Homo sapiens: one gene and its partners. Each later gene encodes a partner of the first gene's protein in a complex. Each region holds a gene or a part of one and is shown in the gene's direction. Other genes may lie near its edges. The genes, in order: CCNA2, RBL1 and CDC6.

What was found.
Region 2: the proteins of CCNA2 (region 1) and RBL1 are in contact, whole or in part, in a crystal structure (PDB 1H28), measured with the Homo sapiens proteins. Residues at the interface, in NP_001228.2 of Homo sapiens: Met210, Ile213, Leu214, Asp216, Trp217, Glu220, Glu224, Arg250, Gly251, Lys252, Leu253, Gln254, Tyr280, Ile281, Thr282, Asp283, Thr285, Tyr286; in NP_002886.2 of Homo sapiens: Gly654, Ser655, Ala656, Lys657, Arg658, Arg659, Leu660, Phe661, Gly662, Glu663.
Region 3: the proteins of CCNA2 (region 1) and CDC6 are in contact, whole or in part, in a crystal structure (PDB 2CCH), measured with the Homo sapiens proteins. Residues at the interface, in NP_001228.2 of Homo sapiens: Met210, Ile213, Leu214, Trp217, Glu220, Val221, Glu224, Tyr225, Arg250, Leu253, Gln254, Glu277, Tyr280, Ile281, Thr282, Asp283, Thr285; in NP_001245.1 of Homo sapiens: His89 (codon at 351), Thr90 (codon at 354), Leu91 (codon at 357), Lys92 (codon at 360), Gly93 (codon at 363), Arg94 (codon at 366), Arg95 (codon at 369), Leu96 (codon at 372), Val97 (codon at 375), Phe98 (codon at 378), Asp99 (codon at 381), Asn100 (codon at 384).

What each region holds. Positions count from the first base shown.
Region 1 is NC_000004.12:121,815,868-121,818,491, reverse strand, and holds the end of CCNA2 (cyclin-A2), read left to right. Parts: intron 1-314; coding exon 315-448; intron 449-805; coding exon 806-854; 3' UTR 855-1,635; coding exon of another isoform or gene 1,636-1,720; 3' UTR 1,721-2,044; downstream 2,045-2,624. Other genes in the region: EXOSC9 (exosome complex component RRP45), read right to left, coding at 1,636-1,720, 2,045-2,123, 2,298-2,348. UniProt on the Homo sapiens protein: Cyclin which controls both the G1/S and the G2/M transition phases of the cell cycle. Functions through the formation of specific serine/threonine protein kinase holoenzyme complexes with the cyclin-dependent protein kinases CDK1 or CDK2.
Region 2 is NC_000020.11:37,064,995-37,068,648, reverse strand, and holds part of RBL1 (retinoblastoma-like protein 1), read left to right. Parts: intron 1-462; coding exon 463-663; intron 664-1,351; coding exon 1,352-1,416; intron 1,417-1,527; coding exon 1,528-1,656; intron 1,657-1,764; coding exon 1,765-1,925; intron 1,926-3,175; coding exon 3,176-3,225; intron 3,226-3,654. UniProt on the Homo sapiens protein: Key regulator of entry into cell division. Directly involved in heterochromatin formation by maintaining overall chromatin structure and, in particular, that of constitutive heterochromatin by stabilizing histone methylation.
Region 3 is NC_000017.11:40,290,794-40,294,447, forward strand, and holds part of CDC6 (cell division control protein 6 homolog), read left to right. Parts: intron 1-264; coding exon 265-546; intron 547-675; coding exon 676-875; intron 876-2,662; coding exon 2,663-2,838; intron 2,839-3,156; coding exon 3,157-3,263; intron 3,264-3,570; coding exon 3,571-3,654. UniProt on the Homo sapiens protein: Involved in the initiation of DNA replication. Also participates in checkpoint controls that ensure DNA replication is completed before mitosis is initiated.

The sequences.
Region 1 (2,624 bases):
AATCCCTCATGTACACTGAGGGATGATTATATACTGTTTAAGGCATGTTACCTGTTGAACAGTGTTTGTTAGGTAGTAAGCTTAGTTGTAACTTGGATTGAAAGGTGAGCTTTTTTAAAAGCATCTGACCTGTTGCTGGCAGGGAAAGTAGTAGAAAATGGATCGAGGGATGGAATAATGGCCTGAGAAAACTAGTAGTTGGAAAAGTTAAAGATTAGTACTGGAATTTAACATAAGCTTAATGCCAACTATTTACTGTGTTTGGTGTGTTACTAAAAGCAAAACTCAGGGGTTCTCTATTCCCTTCTCTGTAGCCTGAATCATTAATACGAAAGACTGGATATACCCTGGAAAGTCTTAAGCCTTGTCTCATGGACCTTCACCAGACCTACCTCAAAGCACCACAGCATGCACAACAGTCAATAAGAGAAAAGTACAAAAATTCAAAGTAAGAATTAACTTGGATATTGAAGCTTACTTTTCTAGATTATGGTTCAGAGATCTTTGACATTTTAACCTTATTCATGAATCTGCCATAGCCTCCTTGAGAAGCTGTTCTCTAAATTGGTTATGTGTTTGAAGAAGGTTGTAGTTCATGCTTTCTGCCCTGGGTCTGGGGGAGAAGAGAGAAGGAAGGGGGCATGCATGTGTGTTTCAGGGACCAGACAGTGTTTCTAAAACCATCAAGTCGGTCAGACAGAAATAGCATTTTTTAGTTCCCAATACATGAGTACAAACATTATTCCATGATCTCCTTTACCCAGTGAGTGTTTACTAAAAATGCTTTTTTTTTCCCTACTTACAGGTATCATGGTGTTTCTCTCCTCAACCCACCAGAGACACTAAATCTGTAACAATGAAAGACTGCCTTTGTTTTCTAAGATGTAAATCACTCAAAGTATATGGTGTACAGTTTTTAACTTAGGTTTTAATTTTACAATCATTTCTGAATACAGAAGTTGTGGCCAAGTACAAATTATGGTATCTATTACTTTTTAAATGGTTTTAATTTGTATATCTTTTGTATATGTATCTGTCTTAGATATTTGGCTAATTTTAAGTGGTTTTGTTAAAGTATTAATGATGCCAGCTGTCAGGATAATAAATTGATTTGGAAAACTTTGCAAGTCAAATTTAACTTCTTCAGGATTTTGCTTAGTAAAGAAGTTTACTTGGTTTACTATATAATGGGAAGTGAAAAGCCTTCCTCTAAAATTAAAGTAGGTTTAGGAAAACAGACCCTCAAATTCTGACATTCATTTTCCTAAGCAACTGGATCAATTTGCTGACTTGGGCATAATCTAATCTAAGCATATCTGAATACAGTATTCAGAGATAGATACAGTAGAGATTCCCCAGACTTTTTCGCTCTTTGTAAAACCTGTTTGTTTAGGTTTTGCGAGGTAAACTCAACAGAGGTTGGGAGTGGAAGAGGGTGGGAAGCTTATATGCAAATTAACAGACGAGAAATGCTCCAGAAGGTTTATTATTTTAAAGCACATTAAAAACAAAAAACTATTTTTAAAATCCTGCTAGATTTTATAATGGATTTGTGAATAAAAAATACCCAGGGTTCTCAGAATGGAATAAATATCCCTTTTAATAGTTATATATACAGATATACAACTGTTAGCTTTAATTGGCAGCTCTCTTCTTTTTTCTTCTTTTCACTGGCTTTTTACTTGGTGCTTTTTCTTGTTTTGCACTGGTGGTCTGTGTTCTGTGAATAAAGCAAAGTAAGAATTTACTAAGAGTATGTTAAGTTTTGGATTATTGAAATAAGAGGCATTTCTTAGTTTTCCAGTAGGATCTAAAATGTGTCAGCTATGAGTAAGACTGGCATCCAAGAAGTTTATATTATAGATTTAGGTCCTAATTTTTATAAATCACAAGGTAAAAAAATCACAGAACAGATGGATCTCTAATGAAAAAGGGATGTCTTTTTGTTTATAGTCATGTGGCAAGATGAGAGTAAAACCAGAGAGCAAACCTCTATAAGTGTTGAGTATATGTATACATTTGAAATAAACCAGAAATTTGTTACCTTATTTTCTTTGGATTCTTGTCTGGTTCCAAAATGATCATTTCTTCTTCTTCACTATCTGAGAGTATTATGGGAGCATCTTTGTTTTTTTATTAATTTAAAAAAAAAAAAAAAAGTTAAGCAATCTCTTGCAAAATTTATTTCTACATGAATTTATTTCTATCAGACGTTCTAAACTCTTATTTCTGGGGCTGGGCGTGGTGGCTCACACTTTTAATACCCACATTTTGGTAGGCTGAGGCAGGTGGATTACCTGAGGTCAGGAACTCGAGTCCAGTCTGGCCAACATGGTGAAACCCCAGCTCTATTAAAAATAATAGAAAAATTAGCCAGGCGTGGTGGCATGTGCTTGTAGGCCCAGCTACTCGAGGCTGAGGCATGAGAATCGCTTGAACCCATGGAGGTGGAGGTTGCAGTGCCACTGCACTCCAGTCTGGGTGACAGAGCAAGACTCCATCCCAAAAAATAAAAATAAAACTCTAGGTGGAGGCTTAATCTTTTCTTTAAATCAGCTTCTTAGAGCACTCTAGAACTCATCTGTAACATTTGTTTCTTTAAACTCTTATTTCCTACAGGTGCT
Region 2 (3,654 bases), on another chromosome or scaffold:
GGTGCTCTCGCTCCCTCCATAGCAGTAAACTCTATGTGATGACCACTAATTAATAACCTGTATTCCCCTGGTGATCCTGGGAACGAAAGTGATTTCATAGTGAGGACTTTTTTTTTTTAATTAAATTTAGGCTTGAGGGATGGTGTTTGTTCTTTGTTCATGTAAGACAGTGTCTTGCTTTGTCACCCGGGCTGGAGTACATGATTGAGGCTAACTGCAGTCTCGACATCCTGGGCTCAAGCAATTCTCCCACCTCAGCCTCCCAAGTACCTGGGGCTACAGGCACATGCCACCACACCCAGCTAATTTTTTAAATTTTTGTAGAGATGGGGTCTTAACTATGTTGCCTGGGAAATCTGGCTTTTTAATAAAGAGTCTTAGTCATGAATAGAATATTTCCTTTCAATCCATTATTTAAATGAATTTTAAAGGTGCCTTTTTTCTCCTCCTTTTTTTTTTTAGTTTAATACAATTTTTTAGTAAAATGAAGAAATGGATGGACATGTCAAATCTACCACAAGAATTTCGTGAACGTATAGAAAGGCTAGAGAGAAATTTTGAGGTGTCTACTGTAATATTCAAAAAATATGAGCCAATTTTTTTAGATATATTTCAAAATCCATATGAAGAACCACCAAAGTTACCACGAAGCCGGAAGCAGAGGTGAGCCCTTAATCCTTATATAATTGACATAAAGATTATGATACAAACTAAGAGAATATACTTTTTTGAAAGTCTGTTTTTTATGAAAAGTATTCCTGCAAAGAACTTAATTATTTTCTTTTTAAATCCATGTACAATTATCCATATTTGGAAATTCAGGATAATACTTTTACTTATTTTTCTTTCTGTTGTTGTTTTTTTTTTTTTTTTTTTTTTTTTGAGGAGTCTCATTCTGTTGCCCAGGCTGGAGTGCAGTGTCCTGATCTCGGCTCACTGCAACCTCTGTCTCCCAGGTTCAAGCAATTCTCCTACCTTAGCCTCCTGAGTAGCTGGGATCACAGGTGTGCACCACCCCGTCTGGCTCATTTTTTGTATTTTTAGTAGAGACCAGGTCTCACCGTGTTGGCCAAGGTGGTCTCGAACTCCTAACCTCAGGTGATCTACCCACCTCGGCCTCCCAGAGTGCTGGGATTACAGGCATGAGCCACCACACCCAGCCCTATGTTCTGATTATTTTATGCAGGTTGGAAAGGCTTACTTAAGTCCATTTCATAAATAATAGATTACTTTTCTTCATGAATGGAATTTCATGTGTAATTTGATCTATTTGATATTTACATTTACTATTTCAGTTTACATGATATTTAGCGAGCTAGTCAGACAAAAAGTAATTTTTTTCCCTTTTTAGGAGGATTCCTTGCAGTGTTAAGGATCTGTTTAATTTCTGTTGGACACTTTTTGTTTATACTAAGGGTAAGATGACACTTTCAGTGGTCTTACATTTCTACTCTGGGAACTTGGTGCTATTTGACATGAGAGGTTTCTGGTTTTTGTGTCTTTTTTTTTTTTTTTTCCCTTATAAAGGTAATTTTCGGATGATTGGGGATGACTTAGTAAACTCTTATCATTTACTTCTATGCTGCTTGGATCTGATTTTTGCCAATGCGATTATGTGCCCAAATAGACAAGACTTGCTAAATCCATCATTTAAAGGTAAGACCTTTTATTTATTTTTGAAAACTGATTATCAGTTTTTGGAAAAAGATTTTTAAAAGTTGACTATTTTTTTTTCCCTCTGCCCTTCCTACACTGTCAAACTAGGTTTACCATCTGATTTTCATACTGCTGACTTTACGGCTTCTGAAGAGCCACCCTGCATCATTGCTGTACTGTGTGAACTGCATGATGGACTTCTCGTAGAAGCAAAAGGAATAAAGGAGCACTACTTTAAGCCATATATTTCAAAACTCTTTGACAGGAAGGTACTGTACTTATAATTAGATGACTGAGATGTTTACAGATCACCAGTAATGTGAAAAGAAAAAAATGTTTTAAGCAAGTTCTCAGCATTATAGAACTTAGGGTCAGGATTCCCAGGCTTTAGCCTCTACTGTGATTCAGAATTTCCTTATGATCTTGTGTGATGTGAGAAACAGAGCTGTTGAAAAATGTGACCAACTATATGTACTGTTGGGTAAATGTACTGTCAGAGGCAACCGTAGGAGGTACTGATAAAGAATTGTAAAGAATAGAACATCAGAGTAGGGCTGACAAATAATTAGGAAAAACAGGAGGTCAGAATAAGCTGACTAATTTACTGCCACAATTTGAATAACTGCTGACTGTTGACTAAAAGTAGGATGATGTATAACAACCACAGTTTTAATTCCATGTAAATCGAGCAGAAAATCCATGATAGTTTTGTAGCCACTTGTAGGCTATCTGTGTGCATTCTGGACATTGTCTCCTTGGTAATTAACTTAGCTATTTCTACATTTATGAATTGGCTTGTTCCTTTGGGTTTCAATTTCTTATTTCCCCAACGTCGAGCCATTAAATGTAGTTAAGCCTCAAGATTTCTCTTTGGTAAAAGGAGGGGTTTGGATTATGGATCCCACTTTTCAAATATTATGAGATTTTTCTTTAAGCATAAATTCTTCCCTTACTGGTTTCTTCTTCTTTTATACAAATTTTTGTATTCAGTCTTGTGTTCCTCAGATATCTATATTATGGCCCATTGTCTGTATGCTAAACATCTCTAGCAAAGTAAACTTTTTTTAAAGGATCCCAGGGACTGGGCGCGGTGGCTCACGCCTGTAATCCCAACACTTTGGGAGGCCAAGGCAGGTGGATTGCTTGAGCCCAAGAGTTCCAGACGAACCTGAGCAACATGGCAAAACCTTGTCTCTACAAACAATACAAAAATTAGTTGGGCATGGTGGTGCACAACTGTAGTCCCAGCTACTTGGCACGCTGAGGCTGCAGTGAGCCATGATTGTACCACTGCACTGCAGCCCTGGTGACAGAACAAAACCCTGTCTCAAAAAAAAAAAAAAGTTAAAAAAAAAAGTTATTTGCATGCTAAATAGTTTATCCTAGTCTGAAAGAAATATTTAATAATTCTGTTTTGTGTGTGTGTTATAACAATATGGAAATTTAGATAAATTTCACGTTTGTGTGTGTATTAATATGCTTAATTATATGGTGTCCCAAAATAATTTTTTGTTCACAGATATTAAAAGGAGAATGCCTCCTGGACCTTTCAAGTTTTACTGATAATAGGTAAATATCTAGTACTAATGGTGCCTGGCTTATCACAAGCTGTCATATTTGTTGATTTGTTGAAATTTGTTAAGCATAACAGTATATCAAAGTAAGACCTCCAAATTCAAGTTCTCTCTGCTTTAGTGGCATTGAATGTTTATTATCACTAAGACTTGTTGGCTTTAAATACATTTATTTTAAGAAATCAAGGCCAGGCACGGTGGCCCACACCTGTAAACCCATCACTTTGGAAGGCCAAGGCAGGCAGATTGCTTGAGCTCAGAAGGTTGGAGACCAGCCTGGGCAACATGGTGAAACCCTGTCTCTACAAAAAATACAAAAATCAGCCAGACGTAGTGGTGTGAGCCTGTGGTCCCAGCTACTTGGGAGGTTGAGGTTGGAGGATCGTTTGAATCTGGGAGGTTGTGGTTGCAGTGAGCCGTGATT
Region 3 (3,654 bases), on another chromosome or scaffold:
AACTTGTCAATTGTTTATTTCTGGAATTTTCCATTTAGTATTTTCAGACTGAGGGTAACTAGAACGGTGGATGAAGGGACTACTGTAGTAAGATCAGTGGTGCCATCTGGTGACCAATATTTGCTGCTAAGTGAGAAGGCATTTTATTTTGGTGGTTCTGACTAAGGTAGAAATTCACCTCTTTCTGGAAGAGGCAGAGGTCTTGCACATCCTTTTACTATCCAATGCTATGAGTGACTACATTTTTATTTTATTGTGTTTCAGGCGATGACAACCTATGCAACACTCCCCATTTACCTCCTTGTTCTCCACCAAAGCAAGGCAAGAAAGAGAATGGTCCCCCTCACTCACATACACTTAAGGGACGAAGATTGGTATTTGACAATCAGCTGACAATTAAGTCTCCTAGCAAAAGAGAACTAGCCAAAGTTCACCAAAACAAAATACTTTCTTCAGTTAGAAAAAGTCAAGAGATCACAACAAATTCTGAGCAGAGATGTCCACTGAAGAAAGAATCTGCATGTGTGAGACTATTCAAGCAAGAAGGTTTGTTCTTACATGGCAACTGTTAGTGCAGCCATTGTAACCAAGGCTGATGACTCCAAATGAAACCACCCACTGGGTCTTCTCATTCACCTTCTGTTGTGTCTAATTGACCTTTTATGTCTGGCACAGGCACTTGCTACCAGCAAGCAAAGCTGGTCCTGAACACAGCTGTCCCAGATCGGCTGCCTGCCAGGGAAAGGGAGATGGATGTCATCAGGAATTTCTTGAGGGAACACATCTGTGGGAAAAAAGCTGGAAGCCTTTACCTTTCTGGTGCTCCTGGAACTGGAAAAACTGCCTGCTTAAGCCGGATTCTGCAAGACCTCAAGGTACATTGAGAGTCTGAATTATGATACTCTTGGTAAAATGATACTTGGGTGTTTTTGTTTGTTTGTTTGTTTTGTTTTGTTTTGTTTTGTTTTTTGAGACGGAGTCTCGCTCTGTCGCCTAGGCTGTAGTGCAGTGGCGCGATCTCGGCTCACTGCAAGCTCTGCCTCCCAGGTTCACGCCATTCTCCTGCCTCAGCCTCCCGAGTAGCTGGGACTACAGGCGCCCGCCACCATGCCCAGCTAATGTTTTTTGTATTTTTAGTAGAGACGGGGTGTCACTGTGTTAGCCAGGATGGTCTCGATCTCCTCACCTCATGGTCCGCCCTTGTTGGCCTCCCAAAGTGTTGGGATTACAGGTGTGAGCCACCGCACCTGGCCTGTTTTGTTTTTGAAACAGGGTCTCTGTTGTCCAGGCTGGAGTGCAGTGTTGTGATCTCAGCTCACTGCAGCCTTGACCTCTTGGGCTCAGGTGATCCTCCCACCTCGGCCTCCTGGATAGCTGGGAATACTGGCACTCACCACTACACCCAGCTAATTTTTTGTAGAGACAGGGTTTCACCATGTTGCCCAGACTTGTCCTGAACTCCTGAGCTCAAGTAATCTGCCTGCTTCAGCCTCCCAAAGTGCTGGGATTACAGGTGTAAGCCACTGTGCCTGGCTGGCACTTAGTTAAGAAAGAGGGCTAGGCACGGTGGCTCACACCTGTAATCCCAGCACTTTGGGAGGCTGAGGTGGGTGGATCACCTAAGGTCAGGAGTTTGAGACCACCCTGGTCAACATGGTGAAACCCTGTCTCTACTAATAATACAAAAAAAAATTAGCCGGGCATGGTGGCAGGTGCCTATAATCCCAGCTACTCGGGAGGCTGAGGCAGGAGGATCACTTGAACTCGGGAAGCAGAGGTTGCAGTGAGCTGAGATCGCGCTACTGTACTCCAGCCTGGGTGACAGAGTGAGACTCTGTCTCAAAAGAAAAAGAAGGCTGGGCATGGTGGCTCACGCCTATAATCCCAGCACTTTGGGAGGCCGAGGCGGGCGGATCATGAGGTTAGGAGATTGAGACCATCCTGACTAACACAGTGAAACCCCGTCTCTACTAAAAATACAAAAAAAATTAGCCAGGCGTGGTGGCGAGTGCCTGTAGTTCCAGCTACTCGGGAGGCTGAGGCAGGAGAATGGCGTGAACCCACAGGTGGAGCTTGCAGTGAGCCGAGATCGCGCCACTGCACTCCAGCATGGGCGACAGAGCAAGACTCCGTCTCAAAAAAAAAAAGAGTTAAGAAAGAGTAGGCCTGGTGCGGTGGCTCACACCTGTAATTCCAACACTTTGGGAGGCTGAGGCAGGTGGATCACCTGAGGTCAGGAGTTCAAGACCAGCCTGGCCAATGTGGCGAAACCCCATCTCTACTAAAAATATAAAAATTAGCTGGGTGTGGTGGTGCATCCTTGTAATCCCAGCTACTTGGGAGGCTGAGGCAGGAGAATCACTTCAACCCGGGAGGCAGAGGTTGCAATGAGTTGAGATTGTGGCATTGCATTTCAGCCTGGGCAACAGAGTGAGACTCCGTCTCAAAGAAAAAAAAAAGAAAGAAAGAAAAGAAAGAGTAGAAGTTTAGAAGATTGAGGGTTTCTTCAAAATAAAACATTTGTAATTTCATTGTTTAAATCTTTCCAAATGAAAGTAGAGCTTCCTTACGTGCTGTTAGCTCTTCAAAGACATTTTAGGCTCTATCAGATCTTTATTTTCTGAGGCCAAAATAACTCCCATATTTGCATTTTTTTTTCCAGAAGGAACTGAAAGGCTTTAAAACTATCATGCTGAATTGCATGTCCTTGAGGACTGCCCAGGCTGTATTCCCAGCTATTGCTCAGGAGATTTGTCAGGAAGAGGTATCCAGGCCAGCTGGGAAGGACATGATGAGGAAATTGGAAAAACATATGACTGCAGAGAAGGGCCCCATGATGTAAGTATTGTTCTGCTTCATGTTGCTCTGTGAAAATCTGCAAGGTCTGTTGCCCATAAAAAGTACATTTTGTATATTTTCTCTCTGAAGGATAGTTACATAAACTTAAAGGGAAAGAAGAGAAGGAAGATACACCTAATTTTAAATTGGATTACTTATAGATGATGTGGGGTATCCTTGTAGCAGTAACTAGAGATAGGTTAGATTATGATCTTTAAACTGGTCTCAGCTTTAGGAAAGTGACCTGAAGTCAGCCTATATCAAACATTAGAGGGTTAAGAAGGTGAATATGGATACTAACTGTTTCTCTTTTTATAGTGTGTTGGTATTGGACGAGATGGATCAACTGGACAGCAAAGGCCAGGATGTATTGTACACGCTATTTGAATGGCCATGGCTAAGCAATTCTCACTTGGTGCTGATTGGTTAGTGCTCAATTGTTAATGTTACATGGTGGTTCTAAAGTATTTTTTAAGAATATATATTCAGCTTATTTATCAGCTATTTTATCTTAAACCAGCTTTCTGCCGTGTCAAAATAAGAAAGTTAAATGACTATGTACATCTTACCTAATAGATACATCTTATCTATTGGGATGGGGTAGGAGACAAGTGGCAAGCAACAATTAGAATGCTAGATTCTATAACTGGAGATTTATTTAGCTTTCAGAAGATTTAGTTTTCCCTTTAGGATAATTTGACCAATGATCAATGTTGTTGATCTCCTCCTTAGGTATTGCTAATACCCTGGATCTCACAGATAGAATTCTACCTAGGCTTCAAGCTAGAGAAAAATGTAAGCCACAGCTGTTGAACT